Linked DNA regions of Homo sapiens. The protein of the gene in region 2 interacts with the protein of the main gene of each other region in a pairwise test. Each region holds a gene or a part of one and is shown on either strand. Other genes may lie near its edges. The genes, in order: AP1G1 and UBL7.

Evidence for each region.
Region 1: the proteins of UBL7 (region 2) and AP1G1 interact in binary tests that used the Homo sapiens proteins (3 or more experiments, as listed by UniProt).

Annotation. Positions count from the first base shown.
Region 1 is NC_000016.10:71,735,630-71,751,745, forward strand, and holds part of AP1G1 (AP-1 complex subunit gamma-1), read right to left. Parts: intron 14,704-16,116; coding exon 14,581-14,703; intron 14,355-14,580; coding exon 14,265-14,354; intron 12,750-14,264; coding exon 12,622-12,749; intron 11,064-12,621; coding exon 10,959-11,063; intron 9,986-10,958; coding exon 9,844-9,985; intron 9,642-9,843; coding exon 9,515-9,641; intron 3,713-9,514; coding exon 3,605-3,712; intron 3,474-3,604; coding exon 3,313-3,473; intron 1-3,312. UniProt on the Homo sapiens protein: Subunit of clathrin-associated adaptor protein complex 1 that plays a role in protein sorting in the late-Golgi/trans-Golgi network (TGN) and/or endosomes.
Region 2 is NC_000015.10:74,447,729-74,463,844, reverse strand, and holds the start of UBL7 (ubiquitin-like protein 7), read left to right. Parts: upstream 1-2,684; 5' UTR 2,685-2,808; exon of another isoform or gene 2,809-3,086; coding exon of another isoform or gene 3,087-3,177; intron 3,178-4,741; exon of another isoform or gene 4,742-4,826; intron 4,827-4,948; coding exon of another isoform or gene 4,949-4,977; coding exon 4,978-5,161; intron 5,162-7,173; coding exon 7,174-7,293; intron 7,294-11,466; coding exon 11,467-11,549; intron 11,550-12,324; coding exon 12,325-12,409; intron 12,410-12,985; coding exon 12,986-13,043; intron 13,044-13,775; coding exon 13,776-13,909; intron 13,910-14,169; coding exon 14,170-14,219; intron 14,220-14,491; coding exon 14,492-14,659; intron 14,660-15,244; coding exon 15,245-15,367; intron 15,368-16,116.

The DNA.
Region 1 (16,116 bases), on a different chromosome or scaffold from region 2:
TGGGCAACAGAGCAAGACTCCGTCTCAAAAAAAAAAAAAAAGTGCTATATAGGGCAAGCTAGGTAAACCATACTGTACTACGTAGCTATTGTATGAACTAGCATTTGAAAATCTTTCCTAAAAGTAGATTAAACTTCTAAAATATTTGAGAGAGAGAGACACTAGTCTTCTCTAGGGCCAAAAGTTGCAAGAGTGAAGATTCACTCTCAATGTACAGATATATTACACTGGGGGCTGGGCACGGTATTCCCAGCACTTTGGGAGGCCAAGGCGGGCAGATCACCTGAGGTCAGGAGATCTAGATTAGTCTGGTCAACATGGCAAAACCCCATCTCTACTAAAAATACAAAAATTAGCTGGGTATGGTGGCGCATGCCTGTAATCCCAGCTACTCAGGAGGCTGAGGCAAGAGATTTGCTTGAACCCAGGAGGCAGAGGTTGCCTGGGTGACAGAGTGAGACTCCATCTCAAAAAAAAAAAAAAAAAAAATATATATATATATATATATATATATATATGGTCTTATTCATAATTCTGCCACATTAAAATTATGTAAGCTAAAGTATTATTCATTACTACCATATTTCATTAAATGTAAGATACCAATCGTAATTCACACCATTATTTTATGTACCACTGAGATAGAAAACATGCTGCCCACTGAATTATGACAAGATACCAATTTTTAAATGTATCCTAATTTTAGAAACATTAAAACACGAAATTAGTACATAGTAGAACCTATAAAATATGACTTTTTTTTTTTTTTTAGATGGAGTCTCGCTCTGTCGCCCAGGCTGGAGTGCAGTGGTGCGATCTCGGCTCACTGCAAGCTCCATCTCCCAGGTTCATGCCATTCTCCTGCCTCAGCCTCCTGAGTAGCTGGGACTACAGGCGCCCGCCACCACGCCCGGCTAATTTATTATTTATTTATTTATTTATTTATTTATTTATTTATTTATTTATTTATTTTTTGAGACGAGTCTCGCTCTGTTGCCCAGGCTGGAGTCCAGTGGGGTGATCTCGGCTCACTGCAAGCTCCACCTCCCGGGCTCACGCCATTCTCCCGCCTCAGCCTCCCAAGTAGCTGACACTACAGGCGCCCGCCACCACGCCCGGCTAATTTTTTTTTTTTTTTTTTTTTTAGTAGAGACGGGGTTTCACCGTGTTAGCCAGGATGGTCTCAATCTCCTGACCTCGTGGGATCCGCCTGCCTCGGCCTCCCAAAGTGCTGGGATTACAGGCGTGAGCCACCGCGCCCAGCAAAATATGACATTTTAAGTTGAAAATACATTATCATGTTGCACTGTACAGTACACCACCAAAAATGTCATGTTTTAATAGCAGAAGTGATAAGTCACTAGAGCAGCAGCCTAAAGTAACAAGTATAAAACCTAAGTTGAAGAAACTAAATATACTGAGCACTGAACAGATGAAAAGTGCTTCAAACAGTGCCTGATTCAAAAAACTTATTTATTCCTTTAAGCAACCTTAGGAAGTGGCTATCATTATCACCACCCTCTTTGCAAATGAAGACACTGAGGCATAGAGGTTCAGTGACTTTCTTCATGTCATACAACTACTACTAAAATCCAAACAGAATGGCTCTAGAGTTCATTAGTGGTCTTTCACCAATTGACACTACTGCTCCCCTTTTTTTTCTTCTTTTTTTTGGACAGCGTCTCACTCTATCACCCAGGCTAAAGTGCAGTGGCATGATCTTGGCTAACTGCAACTTCCACCTCCTGGGTTCAAGTGAGTCTCCCACCTCAGCCTCCTGAGTAGCTGGGACCACAGGCACGCACCATTGCACCTGGCTAATTTTTTGTATTTTTGGTAAAGATGGTGTTTCACCATGTTGCTGAGGCTGGTCTCAAACTCCTGAGCTCAAGCGATCCACCCGCCTCAGCCTCCCAAATTGCTGGGATTACAGGCGTGAGATACCGTGTCCAGCTAACTGCTTCTTAAACATCTAAATTATTCTGGCTCCTACAAAGTGTAAGCAAAGAGGGTTGCATGAGAGTCAGAGGATGGGGAAAAAATAAAAAAAGACTGCAAAGTCAGCAGTACCCACAAACAAAGAAAACATCCTCAATTTCCAAGTCCAAGTGTGTTGTCGGAATGTCTAAATGCCATATTTCACATGCCACTGCCAAGATTAGGTTAGCTTAGTCTAAACCAGTGGTTGGCAAACTATGGCCCACTGGCCAAGAATCGCCCAACATCTGATTTTGCAAATAACATTTTATTGGAACAGAACTATGTTCATTCATTTACATGTCATCTACAGCTGTTTCTGTACTATAAGAGCAGAACTGAGTACCAATAAAGACCAGATAGCAGCCTAAAATACTTACTGTCTCATCTTTTTAAGAAAAACTACCCACTCCTCATTCTCAACTTTTCTTTATTTAGAACTCTTTGTTTGTTTGTTTTGAGATGGAGTCTCGCTCTGTCACCCAGGCTGGAGTGCAGTGGCATAATCTGAGCTCACTGCATCCTCAGCCTCCTGGGTTCAAGCAATTCTCCTGCCTCATCAGCCTCCCGAGTAACTGGGATTAGAGGAACCTGCCATCACGCCCGGCTAATTTTTTTTTTTTTTTGTACTTTTAGTAGAGACGGGAGTTTCACCATGTTGGCCAGGTTCTCGAACTCCTGATCTCAAGTGATCTGCCTGCCTCAGCCTCCCAAAGTACTGGGATTACAGCCGTGAGCCACTGCACCCGGCCTCAAGATTTTTCACTATTCATAAATGAACATAAATATCCTTAAACTAAAATTTGGTGTAAACCAAACCTTGATTCACAAAAACAGTTACTGTATCTATAATAAATTGGATGTTAACGAAGGAGGAATGTTTCTCTCATTTATGTATCAAGAGAGAAAAAATTTCAATTCTGATCTGGTTAACTAGAAGATAATACCAGATAGACAAAGTCTCTCATCTTACTTAACTTTAATCCTATGCCATATTTTATGTTTTTAGGTCTTTAACACTGTATTACTAAAGCCTAACCTATCCTCAATGCCCTGAGCATTAACTGATCACCTCGTAGAATTCTGCTCTCACTACTATTAGAATTGTTTTTCTTTATCCTACAATGCTAACCATCAGAATACTTGTAACCTAGTAAAAATTATTCACTAAAAATGATATGCTTCCATGAACCATAAGCTACATTATTGTTAGTTTGAATTAAGTCTACAAATTTAATCTGTAAACATTAAAACATATCCTTTACCAAACACATGAAAAAAAAAAGCCAGCCAATCTTTAATCAAAGGAAACATCTAAAGAAGACATTGTAGTACCTTTGGTACTGCAGCTTGGAAAACAAAGTCCGTCATATCTAGCTCTGTGCTGTTGGAGGCCTGTATCGTTATCACTGTTACACTGGGGTTGGTATTTGACCGTTCAAAGGTGAATTCTATCTTCAAGCCATTCTTACTGTATGCTGTGATGGAGGGGATGCCTGAGAAAGTACAGGAAGATAAGTCTTATTGTAGTCAGCCTAATGCTTGCAGAATTATTACTTCTTTTTCTTAATAACCACATCTCATTACTCAGTGCTCCATGTAATGATGGTAACAACAGTCATCGTACCTGCAGCAATATCATTGAAGAGAGGCTGTGATGAAAGCCCATCCAACAAGAAGGGGGGCTGGGATATCTGTGGGACTGAGGCAGGGGCAGGAGCAGCAGCTGGAGCACCTAAAGGAAATATTTTAATGGAAAGTTAACCTTAGGCAGCATGACAAAGCTTACCAAGAAATTATAGGGAAAATTATTTCGGTCTCAGGTTAAGGAAAGATTCCTTAAACAAGATGCAAAAAGCATAGACCACAAAGAGAAAGAACTAAAAACTCAAGTACTTTAAAACGAGCAACTTCTGTTTATTAAAAAATACTGTAAGAAAAAGTACAGTCTGAGCAACATGGCGAGACCCTGTCTCTACAAAAAAAAATACAAAAATTAGCCAGGCATGGTGGTGTGCGCCTGTAGTCCCAGCTACTTGGGAGACTGCAGTGGGAGGATCACTGGAGCCTGGAAAGTTGAGGCTACAGTGAGCTTGCACCACTGTACTCCAGCCTGGGGGACAGAGCGAGACTCTGTCGCAAAAAAAAAAAAAAAAGTAAAGAGAGAGAGCCCACAGACAGGAGAAAATGTTTGCTATACAGTAATGAATGGATAAGTATCCAAACGATAACTGTCTTCTATAAAACCAATAAGAAACAGATAACCCAATTTAAAAGTGTCAAGATATAAAAACACGCAAGTCACAAAAGAGGAAACCTGAATGAAAAGGGAATCTTACAAACAGATGCTCAATTTTACCAGTAATGATGGAAGTGGAATTTAAAATTATAGTGAGATACTACCTCATGTCTACCAGAATGGTGAAAATTTCGATGTCTGATAATTCCAGATGTTGGCAAGAAGATGGAACGATGGGAAATTTTAAGCTCTGCTATAGGAAGGTAAACTGGCACAACCAATCTAGAGAGTAATTTGGCAACAGTAGAGTTGAACATCAGTATATCCTTAAACTGAGGTTTCTCAACCTTGACAGTAATAGCTTTTAGGCTTCCTAATTCTTTGTTGTAGGGGGCTGCCTTGTTTATTGTAGGATATTAAGTAGCACCCCTGGGCTTTTATGCATTAGACGGTAGCATCCTCCCAGTTGTAACAACCAAAAATATCTTCAGACACTGCCAACCCCTGGAGGGCAAAATCTTCCCCAGTTGAGAACCGATTACCCCTTCTTAGGAATGCTTTTAATTAATCCTTGCATGTGTTCACTGGGAGATACATCCAAAAGCATTCATAGCAGGAACACTCCTAATGGTGAAATACTGGAAACAACCAAAATGTCTGTCATCTTGATAATGAATAAGTAAACTGATATATTGATATACTAAAATACTACACATGTACAACAGTAAAAAGTGAATTCACTAGAAATACACTTAACATGGATTATTCATAACTCATTCTCACAATTACAATGTTTAGCAAAAAAAGGTGCAAAAAAGAACACATTCAGTTGGATACCTTGTCTAAAAAGGTAAAAATTGGCAAAATAATACTACATACTATATCAAGAAATGCACAGGAATGGCAAACACCAATGTTAAACACTACTTTAGGATAGACAGTAGTTACGTCTGGAATCAAAAAGAAATGGGATGAGAGGGAAATACACAAAGAACATCAACCCTCTTAATATTTTATTTTACAAACTAGGTAGATCAAAACATTCATTAAATTTTGTAGATGTTAAATGCTGTATAATAAAATTTTCACACACACACACGCACCCTGTGAGGGGTGGTATAAAGTGGGGTGGGAAAAAGAAATAGATTACCATTCTTATTTAATCTTTCCAAATAAGAACAACTTGACAATCATACAATAGAAGATAATTCATAGAACATGAGGGATATCAAGATTCGAAGAAGAAGCATAAGGAAATTCAGTAAAATTAAGAGAATGTATTTAATATTTAAATAGATTTCAAACTACTTGTGAAATTAACTGAAAATATGCCATTTAAAAAAGAACTATCACAATGAAATAAAGGAAGGCTAGAATATCATCTTTTTTTAAGAAATTGACAGCAAGAATGAGGGGGAAAAAAGATACTAAAGAATACTAGAAAAGTAAATGACAGGCTGGGCGCGATGGCTCATGCCTGTAATCCCAGCACTTTGGGAGGTCGAGGCGGGTGGATCACCTGAGGTCAGGAGTTTGAGACCAGCCTGGCCAACACAGCGAAACCCTATCTCTACTAAAAATACAAAAATTAGCCGGGTGTGGTGGCACGCGCCTATAGTCCCAGCCACTCGGGAGGCTGAGGCAGGAGAATCGCTTGAATCTGGGAGGCAAAGGTTGCAGTGAGCCAAGATCACACCATTGCACTCCAGCCTGGGTGACAGAGCAAGACACCATCTCAAAAACAAAAACAAGTAAATGACATATTAAAAATTAGCAAAGAGAATAGAAATACGGATGGCTAAGCAAGCACGAGAAGCTAAAATAAATGCAAACACCATTTGTGCAGTCCAGCAGATTATCAATGAAGCAGACAAAGAAATATTCATACAGTTCTCCTAGTCTAAAAAATCAAATCGAGAAAATTTCCCCCAATTCCCATTTTCAAAACAATTTTAGAAATGTGTTCTCATGGAAAATCAGAGGCTACTCAAGATACAGGCAGCATATAGGTCCCCAACTCCCTCAAATTTTCACTTTTCTTTGTCCTGTAAAAGTATAGCAAGGTAGTTTAGGAGAAGAGCAGAAACTTACTGCTCCAAACCCTTTAAAAACACATGTTAAATCTATTCTGAATTTCTACTGACTTAAATTTCTATATAATGGGGTAAAACTGTAATGATAAATTAAGAAATCTAGAATTCAAAATTTTAAAACTTAATGTAAAAAGTGGAAAAACATCTTTAAAACACATTATGAATAAGGCAAGAAAACCCAGACTTTTTAACATTTTATCATTTTGCTTTAACATATAACACTAGGAAAACAAGACAGTAGGAACAAAAAGAAAAGACTCCACAATAAATGAGCTAAGGATACAGGAATGTTCAGAAAGGAACCTCATCTATAATACAAATATGTGAATAAATATTAAACATTCTCTGTGATCAAAAAATAATAGGGCCTCTCTCTGCTGACCAAGCCTGGCAGAGGGCTACAAAATTTAAAAAATAATAATAAAAATAAAATATAATAGGACCAAATTTTCACCCAATAGGGCTTTTTAAAATGATAATATACAATGCTTATGACTGTGCGGTTAAACATATAAATTGAGGAAAAGGTAAATAATATTTACCAAGTGCCTACTATGTATCATGCACTGAATAGGTCAATGGGCCTCACAAATATCTTATGGAGTAAGTATTAATCATCCTAATTTTAACCAGATTCAGAAAGACTAAGTCACTTAGTCTAACAAATTAATCTAAAATAAGAACAAATTGATGTAATATTTGTTGAGGCCGCTAGGTAAGAAAAATCTAGAAACAAAATACCCCATACTGGCTGGGTGCGGTGACTCATGCCTGTAATCCCAGCACTTTGGGAGGCCAAGGCGGGAGGATCATTTGAGGTCAGGAGTTCAAGACCAGCCTGGCCAACATGGTGAAACCCCATCTCTAATAAAAAAATACAAAAATTAGCTGGGCATGGTGGCACGTGCCTATAAATCCCAGCTACTCGGGAGGCTGAGGCAGGAGAATCACTTGAACCCGGGAGGCAGAGGTTGCAGTGAGCCGAGATCGTGCTGTTGCACTCCAGCCCGGGCAACAAAGCAAGATTCCGTTTCAAAAAAACCAAAAAAAAAAGCCAAACTACCCAATACTAACGAACTGAGTAAACAGAGCAAATTTGTTGATAAAGTATTAGTCACCTAAAATTATAATTATGAAGGCTATATATATTAACATGGAAATACTAACATATTAGGTGAAGTATATGCTATGGTTTAACTGTGGGGTTGTTTTTTCTTTGCCGGTTATCCAGTACAGCTTTGACATTTGAGGATTTGAAATTGACCATTTGTAAATGATTCATAAGTACATGACAAGTAACATTTTGAAATTTTGTTAAGACACAGACATAAATCCTATACTCTGTGACTCCACTGTATTAGGAAAAAAAAAAATCAGCCTGTGGGAATGAGCTTAGCTAACCATCCAACTTGTTATCCTATGTCTATTTTTTACTCAAGGTCATGTGTGCTTTAACTCTTCATTATCCTCTTAAAGAAGACAGCAAAACCCCGTCTCTACTAAAAATACAAAAAATTAGCCGGGCATGGTGGCATTCGCCTATAATCCCAGCTACTCAGGAGGCTGAGGCAGGAGGCTCACTTGAACGCAGGAGGCAGAGGTTGAAGTGAGCCGAGATAATCCCACTGCACTCCAGCCTGGCTGACAGAGTGAGACTCTGTCTCAAAAAAAAAAAAAAAAAGACACTTTAACCTTTCAGCTATACTTTACACTGAAATTTAGGATAGAAGTTGTAGGCCAGGCGTGGTGGCTCACACCTGTAATCCCAGCACTTTGGGAGGCTGAGGTGGGTGGATCACGAGGTCGGGACCAACCTGGCCTACATGGTGAAACCCTGTCTCTCCTAAAACTACAAAAATTAGCCAGGCGCAGTAGCAGGCGCCTGTAATCCCAGCTATTCAGGAGGCTGAGGCAGGAGACCTGCTTGAACCCAGGTTGCAGAGGCTGCAGTGAGCCGAGATCATGCTACTGCACTCCAGCCTGGGTGACAGAGTGAGACTCTGTCTCAAAAAAAAAAAAAAAAAGGCCAGGCGAAGTGGCTCACGCCTGTAATCCCAGCACTTTGGGAGGCCGAGGCAGGGGGATCATGAGGTCAGGAGTTCAGGACCAGCCTGACGAACATGGAGAAACCCCATCTCTACTAAAAATACGAAAATTAGCCAGGGCATGGTGGTGCGTGCCTGTGATCCCAGCTACTCAGGAGGCTGAGGCAGAAGAATCGCTTGAACCCGGGAGGCGGAGGTTGCAGTGAGTCGAGATCGTGCCACTGCACTCCAGCCTGTGCAACAGAGCAAGACTCCATCTCAAAATAAAAATAAAAGTTGTATTGGACTCGGGTTTATCATATTGCTGAACATGTCAATTACAAATGACTGGTATATATGAACAGAAGAAAAAATATTCCCAAATGAAAAGTTATGTTTGAATATTATGAGTGATTGCCCTTCAGTTGCTTTAATTACAGAAAGTGTGAAAGGGAAGAGGTAAGTAGCAGGTTAACATCTCTCCACAAATGGCCACAGCTACTGAAAACTAACCATTAGTGGGAAGGAACCAAGAAGAAGTCATGTCTTGGGACACTAAAAGCAAAGGTGATACGGGATATATTTTTTGAGCTTGAAAGAGAAAGTGTGTTTTTTTTTTTTTTTTTTTGGAGACAGAGTCTTGCTCTGTCACCCAGGCTGCAGTACACACTGGCGCGATCTCGGCTCACTGCAACCTCCGTCTCTCAGGTTCAAGCGATTCTCCTGCCTCAGCCTCCGGAGTAGCTGGGATTATAGGCATGCACCACTTCACCCGGCTAATTGTTGTATTTTTAGTAGAGATGGCGTTTCACCATGTTGGCCAGGCTGGTCTAGAACTCCTGACCTCAGGTGATCCACCTGCCTCTGCCTCCCAAAGTGCTGGGATTACAGGCATGAGCCACTGCGCCCAGCCAGGAAAAGTAGTTTCTATCTTAAAACACTATGAATAATTTATTCACCCAAAATTAGGAGTTTGCCTTTAAGAAATCCGTATAAATTATCTTTAGAGCATTATTAGTATACAACATATAACCCGGATATTGTGAAGATTTGACTCTTGCTTCTGATTTAGCCTCTCCCATCTTCAAATGATTCACGTGCTGGAAAGTCTGGGTTCAGTTTAGTTTTTCCCTGAGGCCTCTATCTTTTCCCAGGTATTAAATAGCTCCAGACTGCCTCACCTGTAAGGTTGATGTCTCCCAGCAAATCAAGAAGTTCTCCACCAGCAGAAGATGGTTTGCTTGTAGGCGCAGTTGGAATAACAGGTGTTATGTCATTTCCTCCCAACAAATCCAATAAATCATTGGCCTAAACAAGGTAACAACACCTCAATTCATTATTATTTGATTTGTCTAGTATACATCTAATGCAAAGCTCTTTCAATATGTAAAAATAAGGAAGGAAATCATCAACCAACCCAGGAACATTAAAGGGACTCAGCTAAGAGACAAGCTGTAAGGGACTATAAAATCGTAAGAAGCCCCAGATGAGCAAGTGAAAGGCTGGCTACCTGGCTGGTGGGCTGTGGCCCAGAGGGTGGCGGTTTGGTCTCTAGTGGAGCTGGTTCTGTCTCTCCATTTGTCTGCACAATCTCAGTAGGGCCATTTGTGGTCACTTTTTCCATGACAGGCATTCTCTCAAGTAGGGCAGACCTAGAAGAATCTGAAGTGGTTAAATTCTAGGCAGTTAACCTAGATTCCCTACCCAAAATAATCACCATTAACTATGTTGAGCCCAAGCATGGAGATCTATCTCCCCTCCCCATCCAACACACACACTAAAATAGAAGGTAGATTACAAGAATACATGACCTAAATTCCTGGCTGGATTAAGGGCAGACAAAAAAATCTTGAATAAACAGACTGCCCAGCTAAATCCCAAAGCATATATTTCAGTGGTAGAGAGACTGAGATGAAAGAAAGGTAAATCCATAGGTATTAACAGTCAAGAAGATACTGTATAATAGAAGAATAAAAGATGACCCAAACACTAGAATGTTAACAGTAAAAGAATTTGAATGAGATTATTTGTCTTGAAAAAATACAACTCCCACTTCTTTTTTTTTTGAGACAGAGTCTTGCTCTGTCGCCAGGCTGGAGTGCAGTGGCATGATCTTGGCTCACTGAAACATCCGCCTCCCAGGTTCAAATGATTCTCCTGCTTCAGCCTCTCGAGTAGCTGGGAATACAGGCATGCGCCACCATGCCCAACTAATTTTTTTGTATTTTTAGTAGAGACGGGGTTTCACCATGTTGGCCAGGATGGTCTCGATCTCTTGACCTCGTGATCTGCCCGCCTCGGCCTCCCAAAGTGCTGGGATTACAGGCGTGAGCCACCACGCCCGGCCTCCCACTTCTTAACTAAATAAAATAGAAAATAAAGCAAACTTTCCATATCAAAAAAAGTGTAAGTGTTGGAGGTGGAATGAAAGAGAGTTAATTTATTTCTTTAGAGACTAGGCAGAATAGAAGATGGACAAAACAGAAGCAGACAAGCAATTAGAACTAAATAGGGATACGAGGAACAATTAATAAAGCACAAGGAATGAATCTTCTTTATGGATTACCATGACAATTTAGTCAGGATGCTAAGAGATACACGCATTGCTTAGTTTCTTTCGCTCACCTCATGTGGTCATATTTCTTGAAAAGTGCATTATATTCTACTGCCCTCTGCTGGAGTTCCACATCAATGCTGCTTCCGTAGATGGAAACCACTTTCTTAATTCGGCTATAGATAAAATGACAAACGAAATAAAATACCCAAAAGAAAATTCACAAATAAGCAGAGATAATGTTTAATAAGCCAGAATTTTCTGGTTAAAATACTGAAATACTCATTTTTTCTTAATTTATATAGTTTTTCAAAAACAAAACACTTTACTTTCATCCATTTATCTGACATTCGCATTATACTATTCTCATTGTAACACTAGATTTTTGTCTGTTAAATATGCCATCCCCATTCAGCAACAATGATGGTGTGGAAAAAACACATATATATATGCCACTCCCTAAACTTTGCTAGACAAAAGTACCAACTATTACTTTGCCACAAAAGAAATTTGTACTGTTCATTCTCTTCTTTGATAATTTTTAAATAATTTTTAATCTATAAAAGGGTCAGAGCCTCAAAATGTTGACCCCAAATTCTTCCAGTTCAGAATTTTAAAAGTAATTCAATACCATTTTTTATAAGACTTCACATTTAAAAGTGAAGCAGAAAGACTACAAGAACTACGTTGGCCTTAAATATGCTTGGGTGGGAAAGTGACCTGAGAATCTACTTTATTCAAAAAAGCAAAGAGGAGAATTAAAAGATTTAATCACCAAAACATTCATGATTTTATTCCTATTAAGACTTGTCAAAATATAATAAACCAAAACCTTGGCCAGATTACAAGGTCAGGAGTTCGAGACCAGTCTGGCCAAAATGGTGAAACCCCATCTCCACCAAAAAATACAAAAATTAGCCAGGCATGGTGGTGTGCGCCTGTAATCCCAGCTACTCAGGAGGCTGAGGCAGGAGAATTGCTTGAACCCTGGAGATGGAGATTGCAGTGAGCCGAGATTGTATGCCACTGCACTCCAGCCTGGCAACAGAGCAAGATTCTGTCATAAAATAAAATGAAATATAAAATACAAATAAACCAAAACCTTTATATGGGGAAGTAGATTCTCAACTTAAAAAGAAAAAAAAAAGGTATTAGAAATCTCATTCTAAAAACGTAACTTTTAGGCCAGGTGGAGTGGGTCACATCTGTAATCCCTGCACTTTGGGAGGTCAGGGCAGGAGGATCACTTGAGCCCAGGAGTTTGAGACCAGCCTGGGCAAACAAACGAAACACTTTCTCTACAAAAAAATGTAAAAATTAGCCAGGCACGATGGTGTGCACTTATAGTCCCAGCTCCTCTGGAGGCTGAGACAGGAAGATCCCTTAAGCCCAGGAGTTCAAGGTTGCAGTAAAATATGATGGCGCCACTGCACCCCATCCTGGGTAAGAGAGCGAGACCCTGTCTCAACAAACAAACAAAACCCCCTAAACTTTTCTGCTTCAAAATAATCCACAAGGGAGTAAAAGAATGAGAGGGAACAAAGTGCTGATGAATAAAGATTAACCACAAATTGATCACTGTGACTGTGGAGAAATAAGTAATGGAAATTTGTGTTATTATTCTCTCTACTTTTGTCTATGCTTGAAATTTTCCATGATAACAAGTTTTTTGGGATTTTTTTTGTTTTTTAATTACAAAACAACCTGTTCACCCTATGTTTCTTCAATACTCACTTTACAGTACAAGTGAATCGAGTGGAAAGCTTCATAATGGCAGTGAGGGCATAACCTCGTGTCACAGAGGTGGACATATTAGAGATTAGGACACTTTCTAAAATATCCAACACTTCATCCTCTGTTACCTGAGGAGGAGGAGGAAAAAGAAGACGATGAAGAATGAGTAGCATGATTAAGCATCTAAATCTGATATCAAGTCAGGGGAAGCAGCCAGAAAGACAATCCTACCGTTACAAAAGCCTCTAACTCAACCTGTGCTTTGCCAGGGTAACTGTCCAAGCTGTTCTATCAACCAGAGTAGTTGGGGGTAAAAAAAAGTGCTCTGGTTCTATCAACCAGAGCAGGTGGGGGTAAAAAGAGTGAAAAATGACCACTGGGGCTGAGAGGCAATATTAGAGCTTCAAGTGGCAGAAACAGAAGAAGAAAAGAAAAACATACAGAGTTCAAGTGTTGTTGCCACAATTTTCCCTTTTAAAGCCAGTCCTTTAATGTGCAAATAAGAACATGGATACATGTCTCATTTCTTCTTGTTTACCAGCCAGAGGGTAAGAGAAACAGTAATTCAGTCCACTAGGACAGAGACTTGGGCCTAAAGTGGTTTTAAAATCTCACAATGGGGCCAGGCAAAGTGGCTCACACCTGTTTTGTTTTTTTTTTGTTTTTTTTGTTTTGAGACGGAGTCTGGCTCTGTCACCCAGGCTGGAATGCAGTGGCGCAATCTTGGCTCACTGCAAGCTCCACCTCCCGGGTTCACGCCATTCTCCTGCCTCAGCCTCCCGAGTAGCTGGGACTACAGGTGCCTGCCACCACGCCCGGCCAATTTTTTCTACTTTTTAGTAGAGATAGGGTTTCACTGTGTTAGCCAGGATGGTCTGGCTAACCACCCTGCAGGTGACCTCATGATCCACCCGCCTTGGCCTCCCAAAGTGCTGGGATTACAGGCATGAGCCACCACACTCAGCAATGCCTGTTAATCCCAACACTTTGAGAGGCCAAGGCAGGCAGATTGCTTGAGTCCAGAAGTTCAAGACCAGCCTGGGCAACACGGTGAAACCCTGTCTCTACAAAAAAAAAGTAGAATAAACTAGCCAGGGTGGTGCCTGCCTATAGTCCCAGCTACTCAGGAGGCTGAGGTGGGAAGATCGCTTGAAACCCAGGAGATCAAGGCTGCAGTGAATTGTGATCCCACCATGGCACTCCAGCTTGGGTGACAGAGTGAGACTCTATTAAAAAAAAAAAAACAAAAAACCTCACAATGGCTCAATAAGTTCCATCTCAAAAAATGGCAGGTTTTCCAATATAATTCGCGTTTGCTTCTTTAAAAAGTTGGGTATTTTTTAAATTTTTTTGAGACAGGGTCTCACTCCTGAGTAGCTGGGACTAGACACCATCATACCTGTCTAATATTTGTGTCTTTTGTAGAGACAGAGTTTCACCATGTTGCCCAGGCTGGTCTCAAACTCCTGGGCTCAAGCGATGCTCCCATCTCAGCCTCCCAAAGCGCTGGGATTATAGGCATGAGCCACCACGCCTGGCCTAAAAAGTTTTCAAGGAATCAACCTCAACTCCCCATTAAACACTACTCTCCTATAACCAAAACCACTATTTTCCCCCACTTAACCAAGAGTGACAAGGAGTACCTGAATAGGCTCTTCCTCTTCACACTGGCCAGATACAAGAAGATCACCATATTCACCTATACACCATGCAGCCACTTGTACCAAAGGTTGCTGTGAAAAGAAAAGTCAACGTTTCTCAAGAACTTCAATTTTTCCAAAGTTATTTAATGCAAATCATAGGTCATCTCATAATAAAGATCAAAACTGTGCATATCTAGAGTGTTAGAAATAAAGACATACCAAAGGGGAGAGAGGAGGGGGGAAAAAAAAGAAGAAAAACATACCAGAAAAATTGAGGGTAAAATTACCCCCTAAAATAGTTGAATGAAGTACTTACTTGAGAATAATCACCAAGAATTGCTTTGTACAGGCGCTGGACAGTATAGGCATGCATCTCCACACTATTAGTTATTAACTGGATTAAATTGGGGACTGCATCATCACGAACATAACTTCCTGCCTAAAAGGAAATGCAGACAATTACCCCTAGAAACACACAGAAATGATGATAACAAGTGTTAGCTATTATTATTACTGTGTGTTTTTTCCTTTCTTTTTTTGAGACAGAGTCTCGCTCTGTCACCCAGGCTGGAGTGCGATAGCGCGATCTTGGCTCACTGCAACCTCCACCTCCCAGGTTCAAGCGATTCTCATGCCTCAGCCTCCCAAGTAGCTGGGACTACAGGTACATGCCACCACACCTGGCTAATTTTTTCTATTTTTAGTAGAGATGGGGTTTCACCATGTTGGTCAGGGTGGTCTCGAACTCCTGACCTCAGATGATCCACCTGCCTCGGCCTCTCAAAGTGCTGGGATTACAGGCGTGTGCCACTGCGCCCAGCCATTACTATTGTTTTTAAAAGAAGAATACCAGAAAACACCCTCAAAGATAAATTTGGTTCCAATTCTCAGGTTCATAACAGCTCAAACTTCAAAGTCTTATTTAAATATGTTACATTTTTAAATTTTATTTTATTTTTAAAAATTTTCTCTTTGTCCAAAGGCCGGGTGTGGTGGCTCACGCCTGTAATCCCAGCACTTTGGGAGGCCAAGGCGGGTGGATCACAAGGTCAGGAGATCGAGACCATCCTGGCTAACACGATGAAACCCCGTCTCTACTAAAAATACAAAAAATTAGCCGGGCATGTGGTGGGTGCTTGTAGTCCCAGCTACTCAGGAGGCTGAGACAGCAGAATGGCGTGAACCCAGGAGGCCGAGCTTGCAGTGAGCCGAGTTTGCGCCACTGCACTCCAGCCTGAGCAACAGACTGAGACTCCGTCTCAAAAAAAAAAAAAAAAAAATTTCTCTTTGTCCAAATTAAAAAAGGAAGGCTGGACACAGTGGCTCACACCTGTAATCGCAGCACTTTGGATGGCTGAAGCAAGATGACTGCTTGAGGCCAGGAGTTTGACACAAGCCTGGGCCACACAGCAAGACTCCATCACTACCAACAATAATAATAATAATAATAATAATGTAAAGGTTTAAAACTTTATCACCCAACCTTGGTCAATCTCCCATTCCTAAATAGAACAATAGATTTAATTTGTAAGACTGAGACCAGTCCTAACCATGTGTATTTTGGAAAGGAAAAAAAAGAAAAAAAAAAAAAAACAGCCAGGTGATCAGGGTTTTATCAGGTCACTCCTGTTAAGAAACACAAAGACAGAGGAAGAATTCTGGGAAAATGATCAGAAGGAAAGGTGAGAAGCTAAAAAGCAGGTAATTTGCAGTATAGTTTATTTACATCCTTCCGTAAAGCAGAGTGCATTAAATACAAGAAAGCATCAGGGTGATCTAATGGGTTTGTATAATAAGACTACTTCATTCAACAGCAGCAGAATACACATTTTTCTTAAACTTACACTGAACC
Region 2 (16,116 bases):
TCTAAATACCATTCCTTACTAAAAGGAACTAAGGCTCTTTGGAGAAATGAATGATGTGACAGATGTGAAAATCTATGACATAACTTATGAAAATGGCAGAGAGATGATCAGCCTCCACCCAACTGGAATGGTTGATGAAAGCTGAATGAGATTGTAAGTTACATGGTATTATTGTATTTATTAATTTCTTGATTTTGCTGGGTTGTACTGTGGCTGTGACATAGAATATATCCTTGTTTTCAGGAAATACAGAAATACTTTGGGTAATGTCTGTAATTGGCTCTTAAACGGATCGGGTGGAAAAACAAAAGAACAATATGCATAGTGAGAGAGTGAGAGAGAAAGAATGATGAGGTAAATGTAAACTATTAACAACTGGGGACTTTGGGTTAAGGGTATGAGGGCATTATTTTGTAATATTTTTGCAACTGTACTGTAAACTTGAAATTATTTCAAAGTAAAAAGTCTCAAGAATATTTGAGCACAGGGGAAATATTCAAGCTAGGTAAAATATGTAGATTACTAAACAAATGTACAGTGTAATCTAAATTTTGTTGAATATACATATTTAAGATTCAGTAAAATTATACTTTTAGAAGCATAAAACAAAGTTAACAATTGTCATCTATTGGTGATAGAATAGCCATGCCCCTCTTAAAGCCAAAAGGCTAGCAGATATCAAGACCTACTCTAAAGTTAGAGAAATCAAGACGTGTGACATTGGCACAATGACAGAAAAATACACCCATGGCACAGAATAAGAGTCAAAAATTGACCCAGACATACATAGTCACCGGATTTATGACAAAGCTGCCACTGAAATTCAGTGGGAACAAAATTTTTAAATAGTGCTGGATCAATTGTACACCCATATGGAAGAGATGAATCTTGATGTCTAACTCCTATCATATACAAAGATTAATGTGAAATTAATCATAGACCTAAATGTGAAAGATAAAATAACACAGAAGAAAACCTAGGATAGTATCTTCATAACGAGGGCAGGCAAAGATTTCTTACATAGGACACAAAAGGCACTAACCATCACAACAAAATTTCAGGCCGGGCGTGGTGGCTACCGCTTGTAATCCCAGCACTTTGGGATCACCTGAGGTCAGGAGTTCGAGCAGCCTGGCCAACGTGGTGAAACCCCGTCTCTACTAAAAATACAAAAATTAGCCGGGCGTGGTGGCAGGTACCTGTAGCCCCAGCTCCTCAAGAGGCTGAGGCATGAGAATCTCTTGAACCCGGGAGGCGGAGGGTGCAGTGAGCCGAGATCGGCCACTACTGCACTCCAATCTGGGCGACAGAGCAAGACTCCGTCTCAAAAAAAAAAAAAAGTTTTAAAATGAAATTAAATTATCTAATACCATTAAGAGTAAAAAAAAAATCATGAACTGGGAAAGTATTCACAATATATAATTTTGATAAATTATGGAGCTCAGGTGCAAGTAACTTAGTAGGCAGGAGAGGAAGGAGTCTAAAGAAGTCTAGTTAGGAAGGATTACTGAAAGAGGGGGTATATCTAAAAATGGGTAGGATGGGAAAGGGAGACTTTGGGAACAGCCATGGGTTCCTAATGCGCCCACAACATACATGGGAGTTATCCTGAAGATAAACTCCCTGAAGACAGTGAAAGCCATTTCAAAACTCCCCATATAACTTATGAGAACAGAGGGGTGATCTGCCTTTAATGTTAGGCCTTCTGAGATCCTGCGATCTGTTCGCTCTCCTCAGTAACATTACCCTGCTCAATTGCTGCCTTAATCCCAGGTCGCACATTGGAATGTGGGAATTCAGCGTTTACATTTACCCACACAGGATCAGCCTTCAGCTGCTACGATCAACTTCAGTATTTTCATATAATCACTTTTTTCTTTCCTTAGTTCTTGAATTATTAATTCCTTGAGAAGAGTCCAATCAGAGGTAGTCTTTCTTCAGTATTTTCGGTAATCCTAATTTCTGTGCAAAAAAATTTCTGTTCCATTTTAACCGTGCAGAACTTTCTGTTATCTAAAACACAGTTTCTCTATGAGAGTTCAGTGAAAATTCCCCTTCCCAAACTGATTCTATGAATGACTGTTAGATAAGCTTCACCACTGCATGTAGAGGGTGTACCAGGAACCCAAGTTAGTAGCTCTCCTCAAAGACCCAACTTTTGGAGGGGGTCATCGTCTGGTTCCTGGTATGCCTCCACAGGTAGGTCCGCCTCAGGAAGTCAGCGGCGAGGAGCACAGAAGAGGCTGCCTTCACCAACGGACAGCAGTTTTCATCGTGAGGGCCGTCGGCAACCGCTTGGATGTGTCTAAAGGGGCCGTTTGGGAACCGGCCCTTCTGGAGGGAAGGGTCGGAGTGGGAGGGGATCCGGGATCCGCCTTACGGCCGAGTGTCCAGCAGCGCGTTCCAACCTGGCAGAACCGACGTACTTCATATGCTCCTCAGGGGAGCGCGGGAATCACCAGGCTGAAGAATGACTGGAAATGGGACCCTCTCCAACCAAAGCACCCAGACATTCCGGCGCCGGACATTTCAAAGAGCGCGGAAGCCACGCCTTCCCCCAGAACCGGAAGCTTTGCAACTAGCGCCTCTTGTAGACTGGCTGTTTATAAGGGGGCGGGGGGCCACAGCGGGAACTGCAACTCCCAGAATGCAGCGCGGAATTTCCGGTTTCCGGCGAGAGGGCCAGAGTGAGTGTTTACACCGGCGGCAGTGCGGCCGGGTTCCTTCCGCGGGACGGGTGAGGGCGCTGGGGCCCTGGGCAGCGCGGGCTCGATGTGTGTCAGCCAAGTAGCTGGTCCCACTGGAGCGGTGAGGTCGCCACCGGATAGTGTTCCTGCCCCATTACTAGCGATCTGTGACCTTGGGCCAGTGATTTTACTGAGTCTTGCTTCCCTCATCTTTAAAATGTGGCTAATGCCTGCCTTAGGGAACCGTTGTGAGGATTAAGTGAGACATGGTATATAAAACGACCTCCTTCTGGCATAAACTTGAGGTGGAAGATACCTTGAGGATGCTTGAAGGTCTGCTAGGCAGCTTCACAGCCTTTTCTTTCCTCTTCTCTATCAGAGGTCTCTTTGGAAGCAATAATGATGACTATAACAAGAACTTATCTTGCTTTGCAAGATTCTTCCGCCGTCAGAGTTTCTGATTTATTTTCTGGGGTTCCATGTATGCCAGGTATGGGGACAAGGATGAAGAAAACTTTAGTCTTTTGTTTTCAAGGGCATTCAAGAATTGGGGTGGAGGAGGGGGCAAGCAGATATTTGTAGCCCTTTTGTTCTGAGGGGATGTGGGAACAACAGAGGAAAGAGAGGGGACTGAGGTTATTGAATCTGTGTTGGTTTCGGTAGGAGTTTGCTAAAAGGCCAAAAAGGGAAGAGAAATTACATGCAGAGTTAGATGAGCAGAGGTGTAAAATAGGGGAGAGCTTTGTTATGAGTGTGTACTTACATGTTGTGGAGGTCCTTTGCAGGGGTAGGGCTCTGTTGGGGAATGAGGCTGGCAGGGAGTTTTGTAAGCCAGGCGATGAAGTTTAGACTTAATTTATATAGATGGTTTAGAGGTATTGGAAGAGGTCTTTTTCTGGGGGGCCGGGGTGGGGCAGGGAGGGACGGAGTCTCTGTCGCCCAAGCTGGAGTGCAGTGGCGCTATCTCGGCTCACTGCAACCTCCACCTCCCGGGTTCAAGCAATTCTCCTGCCTCAGCCTCTCAAGTAGCTGGGATTACAAGCGCCTGCCACCACGCCCTGCAAATTTTTTCTATTATAGTAGAGATGTAGTTTCACCATGTTGGCCAGGCTGGTTTCAAACACCTGATCTTAAGTGATCCGTCCTCCGCGGCCTCCCAAAGTGACAGGATTACAGGTGTGAGCCACCGCGTCTGGCTTTTTTTTTTTTTTTTTTTTTTTTTTTTGCGACAGAGTCTCTCTCTGTCACCCAGGCTGGAGTGCAGTGACGTGATCTTGGCTCACTGCAACCTCAGCCTTCCGAGTAGGTGGCACTACAGGTGCGCACTACCACGCCCAGCTAATTTTTGTATTTTTAGTAGTGACGGGTTTCACCATGTTGGCCAGGCTGGTCTTGAACTCTTGAGCTTAGGCAATCCGCCCGCCTAGGCCTCTCAAAGTGCTAGGGTTACAGGCATGAGCCACCGCGCCCAGCCCGACATTGGAAGAGTTCTAAGCAGAGAAGTGACTTGGTCAGATCTGTGTTTTAGAATGATGGGTTGTGGCCAGGCGCAGTCGCTCATGCCTGTAATCCCAGCACTTTGGGAGGCCGAGGCAGGTGGATCACGAGGTCAGGAGATCGAGACCATCCTGGCTAACACAGTGAAACCCCGTCTCTACTAAAAGTACAAAAAAAAAAAAAAATTAGCCTGGCGTCGTGGCGGGTGCCTGTAGTCCCTGCTACCTGGGAGGCTGAGGCAGGAAGGCAGGAGAATGGCGTGAACCTGGGAGGTGGAGCTTGCAGTGAGCCGAGATCGCGCCGCTGCACTCCAGCCTGGGCAACAGAGCGAGACTCCGTCTCAAAAAAAAAAAAAAAAATGATGGGTGTTGTTAGGTGGCAGCATAGATATTTGATAGGGAGAGGCAAGAGGCAGGGAACTTGTTATAAAGCTGTTCTACTGGTTCAAGCAACAGTTGAAGAAAATTGGAAAAAGGGGCATACAGAAGGGAGAGGGTTAGATGATCTCTCTCACAACATTCCTATTAGATTGGATGGCGTTTTTATGTCCACGTTAGGGATGAAGAAACTGAGGCCTAGAGAGCTGTCCATCACAGTATGAGTAGAGAGAGAACCCCAGATTCTAGTTCTGGCCTCCTGATGGTACGCCCTATGCCTCTTCAACAGTGTCACATTGAATTGTCTTTCATTCAACCCTTTGGTGGGTGGGGGTGGAGTAGAGTGGTGGTCTGTCTTTTAACCACTGAGGTTTTGTTCTTTTACAGGGAGAAAGAGAGAGCGCGAAAGAGAGAGGATGTCTCTCTCAGACTGGCACCTGGCGGTGAAGCTGGCTGACCAGCCACTTACTCCAAAGTCTATTCTTCGGTTGCCAGAGACAGAACTGGGAGAATACTCGCTAGGGGGCTATAGTATTTCATTTCTGAAGCAGCTTATTGCTGGCAAACTCCAGGAGTCTGTTCCAGACCCTGAGCTGATTGGTGAGTCTCTCTGGACTGGGGTTGGGCTGCTGCTCTGATCTCTTTTGGGGGAGGATACTTCTGGAATTACAAGAGTAAAGTAAGGGCTTGGGATTTGTTGCCTCATAATGTTAACACTCCAGGGAAGTGAATGTTGGGTAAATAGAAACACAAATCATATAATGAAACTATTGGTTGCCATTTCAGCCATGTATTATACTGAACTACCTTATCACCAGGTTCTTTATGACATTGTCTTGTTTTTTGTTTTTGTTTTTGTTTTGCTGTGTAGCCCAGGCTGGAGTGCAGTGGTGCGATCTCGGCTCACTGCAACCTCTGTCTCCTGGGTCCCAGTTCAAGCAATTCTGCCTCAGCCTCCCGAGTAGCTGGGATTACAGGCACACACCACCATGCCCAGCTAATTTTTGTATTTTTAGTAGAGACATGGGATTTCACCATGTTGGCCAGGCTGGTCTTGAACTCCTAACCTTGTGATTCTGCCCGCCTCAGCCTCCCAAAATGCTGGGATTACAGGCATGAGCCACCGCTCCTGGCCAACATTGTGAATTCTTTTTCTGAAAGAACAGAAGTTTGGGATGAGTTAGGAAAGGAGAAGTTGGTCAGGGGAGGCTCCTCAGTATATTTGAGGTAGGTCTTCAGGGATGATTAGAAGGATTTTTGCTTGGTTGACTGAGTAAAGGAAAGGCAGTAAAAAAGAAAAAGTGGCGTGGGCAGTCCAGGTGGAGGAGGGAGGAATTTAAATATAATTAAATTACACTGAAAAGGTAATTTTTAATAGCTAAAGGATCCAACTGGCAAGAAAGATGTTTTCAGTCATACCTGGATTGGGTTCATCCTATTTTGTTGTTTTTCCATTGATTTAAATTGGGCAGCCTCCACAATGTTAAACTCCAGAGTTTTTCTGTGGATAGATTCTGTGTGAATCCTTTTTTTTTTTTTTTTTTTTTGAGACGGAGTCTTGCTCTGTTGCCCAGGCTGGAGTGCAGTGGCGAGATCTCAGCTCATTGTAACCTCTGTCTCCCAGGTTCAGGCAATTTTCCTGCCTCAGCCTCCTGAATAACTGGGATTACAGGCCCGCACAACCACAACTGGCTAATTTTTGTGTGTATGTGTGTATATATATATATATTTCTTTTTTTTTGAGACAGAGTCTTGCTCTGTTGCCCAGGCTGGAGTGCAGTGGTGTGATCTTGGCTCACTGCAACCTCCGCCTCCTGGGTTCAAGCAATTCTCCTGCTTCAGCCTCCTGAGTAGCAGGGATTACAGGCGTCTGCCACCATGCCTGGCTAATTTTTGTATTTTTGGTAGAGACGAGGTTTACCATCTTGGCCAGGCTGGCCTTGAACTCCTGACCTCAGGTGATCCACCCACCTCGGCCTCCCAAAGTGTTGGGATTACAGGTGTGAGCCACCGTGCCCGGCCCTAATTTTCGCCATGGCCCAGGTTTCGCCATGTCGGCCAGGCTCCAAAAGTGCTGGGTTTATAGGTGTGAGCCACCACATCTGGCCAGATTCGATGTAAGTCCATTTTATGAGTTTATATTTGCAAATAGTTGTTGAAATGTATTTAATTGGCTAGGCATGGTGGTTCACGCCTGTCATCCCAGCACTTTGTGAGGCTAAGGCAGGAGGATCCCTTGAGCCCAGGAGTTAAGAGACTAGTCTAGGCAACATGGCAAAACCCCGTCTCTACAAAAAACTACAAAAATTAGCTGGGTGTGGTGGCATGTGCCTGTAGTCCCAGCTACTCAGGAGGCTAAGGTGGGAGAATTGCTTGACCCCAGGAGGTTGAGGCTGCAGTGAACCGTGATGGTGCCATTGCACTCAAGCCTGGGCAACAGAGTAAGACCCTGTTTTCCAAAAAAAAAAAAGTATTTGTTAAGTTATTGAATAAGAGTATCTTTTAAAACATGTATCATTCTCCAGCTATCTAATCAAAATAAGGTTCTCGGGACAAAAACCATGTAAATTTGTTTTGAGGAGCAAAATATAAGTGGACAGTTCTTTTTTTAGATCTGATCTACTGTGGTCGGAAGCTAAAAGATGACCAGACACTTGACTTCTATGGCATTCAACCTGGGTCCACTGTCCATGTTCTGCGAAAGTCCTGGCCTGAACCTGATCAGAAACCGGGTGAGTGAGGGGCAGCCCTTAGGCAGGCAGAGTTTCTGTAATATCCGCAAGGGAAGGATCTGTGTGTTCTTGAGGCACAAGCCTGGGTGGAACAAAGGGATGATTTACTGAGCTGATGATAAATGATATCTTTATTACTTATTGGATTAGACCATGCTGATAAACAGAGTCCAATTTTGACCTTCTTACTGCCGGCATCACTAATGGAAGATTTGTTTCTCCATTTTGTTTTTTGTTTTTTGGTTTTTTTGAGACAGTCTCACTCTGTTGCCCAGGCTGGAGTGCAGTGGCACAATCTTGATCTTGGATCACTGCAACCTCCGCCTCCCAGGTTCAAGTGATTCTCATGCCTCAGCCTCCCGAGTAGCTGGGATTACAGGCATGAGTCACCATGCCCAGCTAATTTTTTTTTTTTTTTTTTTTCTGAGACGGAGTCTCACTCTGTCTCACAGGCTGGAGTGCAGTGGTGTGATCTTGGCTCACTGCAAGCTCCGCCTCCCGGGTTCACACCATTCTCCTGCCTCAGCCTCCCAGGTAGCTGGGACTACAGGCGCCCACCACCAAGCCTGGCTAATTTTTTTTGTGTTTTTTAGTAGAGACGGGGTTTCACCGTGTTAGCCAGGATGGTCTCGATCTCCTGACCTTGTGATCTGCCCGCCTCGGCCTCCCAAAGTGCTGGGATTAAAGGCGTGAGCCACTGTACCCGGCCTTCAATTTTTGTATTTTTAGTAGAGACGGGGTGTCTCCATGTTGGTCAACCTGGTCTCGAACTCCTGACCTCAAGCCATCCACCCCACCTCAGCCTCCCAAAGTACAGGCACCATTCCTGGCTTGTTTCTCCACTTTCTAAGTTTGTCATCCACTGTTTCCTAATGGGACAGGGAGTTTGTGTCTACTTAAACTCCTTTAAGTTAACAGTTTATTTTTTAGTGATACAAAGTAAACTTTGTATCCTTTTGTTATTATCGTTGTTCTCATTAGAAAAAAGCTGGAAACTTTTGGCACTTTCCTAATGCTGCAGTTTATTCCCTTGTTAACAAATCTTCCTACAAACTGCCTCAGGTGGTGATTTGTTCAGTTAGCTAACTGCTCTTGCTATACTGGTATTTTCCTGAAGATATTCAAAGAGTATTTAAATAGCTCTTGGAGAAAATATACAAAGCCTCAGATGCCTTTTTGGTTTATAAATAGAAGGTGCTTGGAATTCATGATTTAAATTTTGCATGTGTGTTTTAAAAGCCTCCCTAAGAATAAAGCTAAGCTGTGTAAAAGAGATTAGCTTTGTTACACTGGCAGGTTGACATCTTTTTATAATGTTCATGATTGCTGTGACTAGTTATCAGTTTGAAATTTACCCCCCTTTCAGTTCTAACTGTAAAAGACAAAAATGTCTTTCATACCCTGATGGGAAGTGAGAAAGAGGAACAGAGTTCCTGACATCCAGAGGTTGGCCTGGCACTCACAGCCAGGCCCTGGAATCCTTTTGGGGATCATGAACAATTGTACAGATCCCCAGTAGCAGTCAAGGCCACTCTGAGACCACTATGGATTAAGACAAAAACAAGATCCCTATTATTGCTGAACAGAAACACAAAAACATGAGCATTATCCAAACCACAAAGGTGACCAAGTATCTTTCTATCTTGGCTGATGAGAGTAACAGCTGCTTCTTGGCCAATTACAGCTTCCACCTTGCTCTAGTTTTCCTTCCTTCTAGGTAAGAGTTATTAAGATACTCAATTATAAAATCACTCCCACTGCCTGAAAGCATCCTATCCAGAGTAAAACCTCACTTCTTTAAATTTTTCCCCAAATCAGCCAGACAAAACCAAAATCCTGTAAGAAGTCCTTTCTGGCCGGGTGCAGCAGCTTACGCCTGTAATCCCAGAACTTTGGGAGGCCGAGGTGGGCGGATCACCTGAGATTGGGAGTTCGAGACAAGCCTGACCAACATGGAGAAACCCCGTCTATACTAAAAATACAAAATTAGCCAGGCATGGTGGTGCCTGCTTGTAATCCCAGCTACTTGAGAGGCTGACGCAGGAGAATCGGTTGAACCCAAGAGGCAGAGGTTGCAATGAGCCGAGATCACGCCATTGTATTCCAGCCTGGGCAACAAGAGCGAAACTCTGTCTCAAAAAAAAAAAAGTCCTTTCTAATATCCTCTTACTGAGACAGCCCACGGTTTCCTGTGGTGTGCATTCTTCTCTCTGTACTGAGCAGTAAACCCAACTTGTTTAAATACAGATATGCCCCTCAGCTCTTTGGCTGGAGGGCATTAACAGAAGGAAAATAACATTTGTGGCTTCTGTGAGCCAGGTTTTTTCCCTTTTATACCTCATTTAATCATTACAGTGGCCCTGCAGGGTAGGTAACAGCATTAGCATCTTATGGAGGAAGAAAAGGGTTAGGGCATTTATTCAAGGTCAGCTACTTAGAAAGTGAATGCAAGAGCTGGGATATGGACCAGGGGTTTTCCTGGCTCAAGAGGAAAACCATTTCCACTGGGCTGGCTGCGTTCCACTTCTAAAGGATGAATTTAGCTCAGAGATCTTACAGTGACAGCCATGGCTCTTAGCTGAATAATGGCTTAAGATATTAAGAGTCCTTTTCCTCCCACCTTCTACCTGGAGGATTATTTTTGAAACAAATGACCTTTTTATTGGAAGGTTACAATAAACTTTTAGATCTGTAAAGAAACTGTTTTGTGACAGTGTTTTAGATATTTGCTCCTTGAGTGCTTTTCTTCACAAAGGAATCACATTTTGTGTTCTCCCACAGATTAGGGCCTATAGGAGAAGAACCCATTGTTGTCTGTCTTCCCACCTGGATCTCTTTGGTAGTCCTCCATGGCGGGTTACAAATCCCTTCAGGACGTCACCTTAACCTGCTGTTTGAGCTGGAATGTGTACCCCAAGCTCCAGCCACAAAGAATGACTTGCTGTTTGTTCAAAGCACCACATTCTTTTATTCTCCCATGCCTTTGCACATGTTCTCATTCAGGCTTGGAATACCTTCACCCCCCCAGTAAATATCAGCTCTCTCTTTGATACCCATTTCAAATGGTCTCCTCTGGGAGGCAGCTGTCTATCTTCACCCTCCCTCTCAGTGGTGCCTGTCTGCCTTTGTGTTCCTGGTACCCTAGCTGGGATCCACGTCTCTGTTGAGGTCTTCAACGTGGCATTTTGTAATTGTGTATTTGATGTAGTCTCATTTCTCCTCCTGCCCTAAGAGTTCCTTGATGGCAGGGGTTCTTATTTTTCATATTCTAGTTCCTTGCCTAAAGCCAGGCATGGAGTAAATGCTTAGTACATGTTTGTTGAATGAATAAATTAGGTAATTTACTTAAGATGACTGTTTTTCAAAAGACAGCCTCATGATCAGGACTGTCGATAAGGATGTGGCTGCCACCCTGAACCCCAGGGGTGCTATTCACCTTGCTTTGGGAGTGGTGCCCTGGAGTTGGGCAGTACACAGTCAGTACAGTCACAAGTAGTGGTCCTTCGTGAGGATAACCATACTTTAAAAAGTGTGACCCAGGGCTGGGCACGGTGGCTCACGCCTGTAATCCTAGCACTTTGGGAGGCCGAGGTGTGTGGATCACTTGAGGTCAGGAGTTTGAGACCAGCCTGACCAATATGGTGAAACCCCATCTCAACTAAAAATACAAAAATTATCCAGGAGTGGTGTTGCACACCTGTAATCCCAGCTACTCAGGAGGCTGAGGCACGAGAGTTGCTTCAACCAGGGAGGTGGAGGTTGCAGCGAGCCGAGATTGCGCCACTGCATTCTGGCTGGGCAAGAGGTGAGACTGTCTGAAAAACAAAGGCAAAAACACCAAAAAACAAATGTTATTAGTCTAGAATTCCTGCAGTGGTATGTTGATCAGAGCACCGTTTTTCATGTGGTAAGAGTCTCCTCTGCTGCAACTTGAATTTGTTTGTTTATCTGTGCAAGATGCTTACAAGTGAATGTAAAGATGCTTACTAGCAGTTTTCACATCCATGGCACAAATGGGTTTTTCTGAGCAGGCACTCACATTCTTAAGGGGTGATGAGGGAAGGGAATGCACAGACCAGGCTGCTCCTTGGCACATGCTGAAATGATGTTGCCATGTCTGTGGCAGAGACAGGACCTGCGCTATAGGGTAACTCTGAATGTCTTGTCCCCCAGAACCTGTGGACAAAGTGGCTGCCATGAGAGAGTTCCGGGTGTTGCACACTGCCCTGCACAGCAGCTCCTCTTACAGGGAGGCGGTGAGTGTGTGCTGCGGCCCCCAGCCAGGACTGTAGGAGAGGGTGTGAACGCTGGCTGGCGAGTGGTGTGGAGTGGGAGCTGGAAGCCCGTTGCCATGGCAACCAAGAGTTCCTTGGGGAGTTTTTGCCATGTCTGTGGGCCTCAGTAGAGCCCTGTCTTTCCCCAAAGAGCCTGTCTCAGTCAGGCGTTGTTGATTCCCTCTAATGATAATAATACAACCTGCCCGTATGGTGACAGCCAAAAGATCCTCATACTGTTTCTGCTGGGCCTCATTCTTCGACTTTGGCTGAACTGCCTGCTTACTGCCCCTTGACCTAGATGTCCTCACTGGGGAAGTGGGCTGATGTCTTTCTGTAGGAGAGTTGAGAGGCAAAATTAGTATAGCTGTGAACTTAGCGATATATACAAATATGAAATAGTAATTGTACAGAGATTGAAAAGGACTTTTGGATTGGAACCTAGAGAAACCTTTGTTACCGGGCTTGTAATGAGAGCTTTTATTTTGGAAGCACTAAACTGTAGGTGGGGAAAAGGAGCACAGAGATTTGAAGGTTTACTGTGGTCTTGCCTTTTTTTTTTTTAAATTGTTTGTTTCCCCTCCAGTAAGCTAAGATCTTAGAGCAAAAAGAGGTTCATCTGTTTCTGGGGCTATTGTTCCATTGTGGTGATGTACATGCAAGCACTTAGAGGGAGGAAGTCCTTTGGCAGAGTGTGGGCATTTGATGAGTACATTGAGCTGGTTGGAGTGCTCAGCCCCCGCCATTTCTCCTGCAGGTCTTTAAGATGCTCAGCAATAAGGAGTCTCTGGATCAGATCATTGTGGCCACCCCAGGCCTCAGCAGTGACCCTATTGCTCTTGGTAAGTGCAGGACTGAATTTGAGGAAATAGGAGTTGTCGGAAAAGGAGAAAACAGGAGAAGACAATTCCTCTAAAGAGACTTGGACTATCTTTTGAAGAATGACTGGTCTTGTGGGAAGAGGGAGAGTAATCAAGGTGTGTTTGATATCCCCAGCCCTTTAAGAGCTCTCAGTCCCACAGAGAGATAATGGCCTAACTAACATCGTAAATAAGGGTATGAGGATGCCAAATGAGGATAGCAGTTAGCCCACATCACAGCAATCAGGGAAGGCGTCCTGCACACCCTGAGTAAGGGAAGAACCCAGAGATACGGGAGAAAGAGACAGGTGTCTTGGTACCCAGTCTGTGATGTGACTAAAGTGCAGGGGAGGTGGAGAGCAGGGGACCATCCTCACTAGACCAAGATGAGGAGTACCTGAATTGTATTGCTTGGCGCTTTGCTTCCTCTACTTCTCATGAAGATTGGCTTGTTGTCCTGTGTCCCTGTTGAGCTGGTTGCTCTGAGACGCAAAGCCTCTTCTCCCTCCTGGATCTGGCTGATTTCCTTTCTTTGAGGTGAGCTCTGCTCTTTTTCAGGGGTTCTCCAGGACAAGGACCTCTTCTCTGTCTTCGCTGATCCCAATATGCTTGATACGTAAGTGTACCTGTCCTATTAGAGGGTACCTTCTCTCTCCTCGTGCTCAGGCCAGAAGCCTAATTGTCACCCTGCAGTCTGCTCTGGGAGCCCATCCATAGTCTGTCACCAAGTCTACCCCTTAGATACGTCAGGGGGTGAGAAAGAGCAAAGCCCAAGAGCAGGGCTTTTGTCAAGAGTGCTGGGAGGAAGCAGGATTCTGAGGGAAAGGGTCTTGTCTGCCAGGCTCAGTTTAGGTTTCGTGTGGTAGAAATTAGGGAGCTTTTCAAGGATTTTAAGCTGGCAAAAGGAGAAGCAGGTGTACAGATCCGTAAAGTGTCAAAGCTAAAAGGGACATGTCCTCATTTTGCAAGTGAAGAAAACAGCCCCACCCTGGGAAGAGAAGGGACCAGTCCAGGGTTGCCTGATGTAGTAGTGGTGCCTAGACCAGACACTCCTCATGTGCTCAGGCCAGAACCCTGAGCCTCCCAGGCTGCACCTTTCCCATCATGCCTTGCCTGTGGAGAGGGTGAAGAATCTGCAGCGGACCCCAGGAATTTGAAGGCCTTGCACCCGTTGCTGGGGGCAGATCAGCAGGAGGATAAAGCTTCCTGGTGGAAGATGCTAAAGACTGAGGAATTTGAGAGCAGGCACAGGTGGCTGCATTGTTGTGAGGGGGCACCCAGAACTCCTGTTATGGCTGAGGGTGCTCTTTTGGAGTCACCCTTGGGTTTCTTCCTGCTTCTATCCTAGGTTGGTGCCTGCTCACCCAGCCCTCGTCAATGCCATTGTCCTGGTTCTGCACTCCGTAGCAGGCAGTGCCCCAATGCCTGGGACTGACTCCTCTTCCCGGAGCATGCCCTCCAGCTCATACCGGGATATGCCAGGTGAGCGCCTGAAAAGTGTAATGTGGGCCCCTCAGGAGCCGGCAGTGGCCCAGGAATTTGCTTTACTCAGCAGCTATGTATAGCGTTGGCAGAGGGCGTTCCTTGGGAACTCTCGGTTTGAGTCAGGAAGTGCATCTGTCCTGTAATTTTCCGAGGGGAGAGATGAAAATATGAATTTGGAGAGTAACTTGAGCTGAGATTCTGGAGCTGCGCCTGTGCCTTTCTGTTCTTCCTCCTGAAATCTGTTCGTCCTCCTCCAGGTGGCTTCCTGTTTGAAGGGCTCTCAGATGATGAGGATGACTTTCACCCAGTAAGTGGCCTGCCTGCCTGCCTGACATGCTGACATGTGGGGGAGATGGTGCTGGGAATGAGCTGCATCCTGGGACCTGGCACTCCCAAGGCTGGGAGATGGACATACGCCATTGGGGGGCCAAGACCATGTCATACTATTTCTGCTTTTGGATTCCTTTCTGAACCTGGGAACTTAAGAGTTTCCCCAAGAACTATTGCTGGAGGTGGGTGGAGTTCATCTGGGAGTTTCACAGTACTGCTTCCCTGATTCTGAGTGTCTTCTTTCTCCAGAACACCAGGTCCACACCCTCTAGCAGTACTCCCAGCTCCCGCCCAGCCTCCCTGGGGTACAGTGGAGCTGCTGGGCCCCGGCCCATCACCCAGAGTGAGCTGGCCACCGCCTTGGCCCTGGCCAGCACTCCGGAGAGCAGCTCTCACACACCGACTCCTGGCACCCAGGTATGAAGACGGGGCCGGGAAGATCAAGGCTGGGCCCCCAAGGAACAAGCTCCCCAGCAGTAGAGTAGATTTGCCTTTGCTGACCCTGGTGCTAGATCTAGTTTAAGCTGAACCCTGGAGTCCTGGTGGGGATTTCTTACTGCAGCTTGAGTGACCTCCCCTTCACTTGCCTTGAGGACTCAGAAGTCTAGATTTTAACATGGTCCCGTGTAGTCCCCCCTATTAGTTCAGAAGACTCTTCCTGCACACAATATGCCCTTCCTCATCCCTGACAGGGAGCAGACATCACCAGCTTAAGCATTTCTGGGTGACAAGTCACTTCAGCTTTCAAGGCCATCTCTCCCAGTGCTGCAGTGCTGGGGTCCTAGGCTGGGACAAGGGGCTCAGTGCAGAAGAGAATGGAACCTTTCCTGCCCACATAGAGAGCTTCTAGTTACCTTTGTTTGGTTGTCTTATGGCAGGTCTTTGTTGGGAGGCAGAAGTTGGGTACCTCAGGAGTGCTGTGAGGTGATATGACAACAGCGAGCATCTGCTATAAGATTGAGATGGCGCTGAGGGTGGCACTGACCACTAATTTGTCTCTAGGGTCATTCCTCAGGGACCTCACCAATGTCCTCTGGTGTCCAGTCAGGGACGCCCATCACCAATGATCTCTTCAGCCAAGCCCTACAGCATGCCCTTCAGGCCTCTGGGCAGCCCAGCCTTCAGGTCAGTCTTCCCCACGTCTTGGTTTCCATGTGGCTTCCTTGTTATTTTGGATGCCCAGCCTTTGTTTTGCTCTCTGGCGGTCCTTCACACCTGGCATGCTTCATTCTAGGAACAGCTGGAGCATGGCAGTGGGACAGGTGCAGAGTGTTCCTAGCAAGGGCACACTCTCAGACCATACACAGTGGTCACTAGGCTTCTCCTGCCCCTAGTGACCATGGCCTGACTCCCTAGACCACCTGGCTTAGATAATCATGGCCATTTCATTCATTCATTCAGTGATCATTGACTGAGCATGTGTATACTAGGCCTGAGTCCAGATGCTGGGCTAGTGGCAAGCTGGTTCTCATCCCTGCCATGGAGGGGCACCAGGCAGGCACTGAGCTGGGGAGCAACAAGGCAAGAAACCCAGCTGCTTGAAGTAAGGGCCTAGGTCAGACAAAACTTTTCTGAGAGAGGGGTATTTAAGCTGATTGTCAGAAGAATTAGTTAGAAGTTAGCTAGCCAGGGAAGGGGGTTTGAGGTAGGAAGGGGCTGATTTCCAGGTGAAGACAGCTACCTGTTTGTGCACATGTGTGGAGGTATATGTGACATACTCAAAACTACAAGGCTAGGATGCAGTGTCCAGTGTAGAAGATCCGCAGATGGGGCCAGAGAAAGAGCAGGAGCCTACGAGAGGGGCTTGCATGCCAACCTGCGGAGATTAGACTTGATGACTTGATGTAGCAGTCACCAGGGATCCCTGGGAGGCA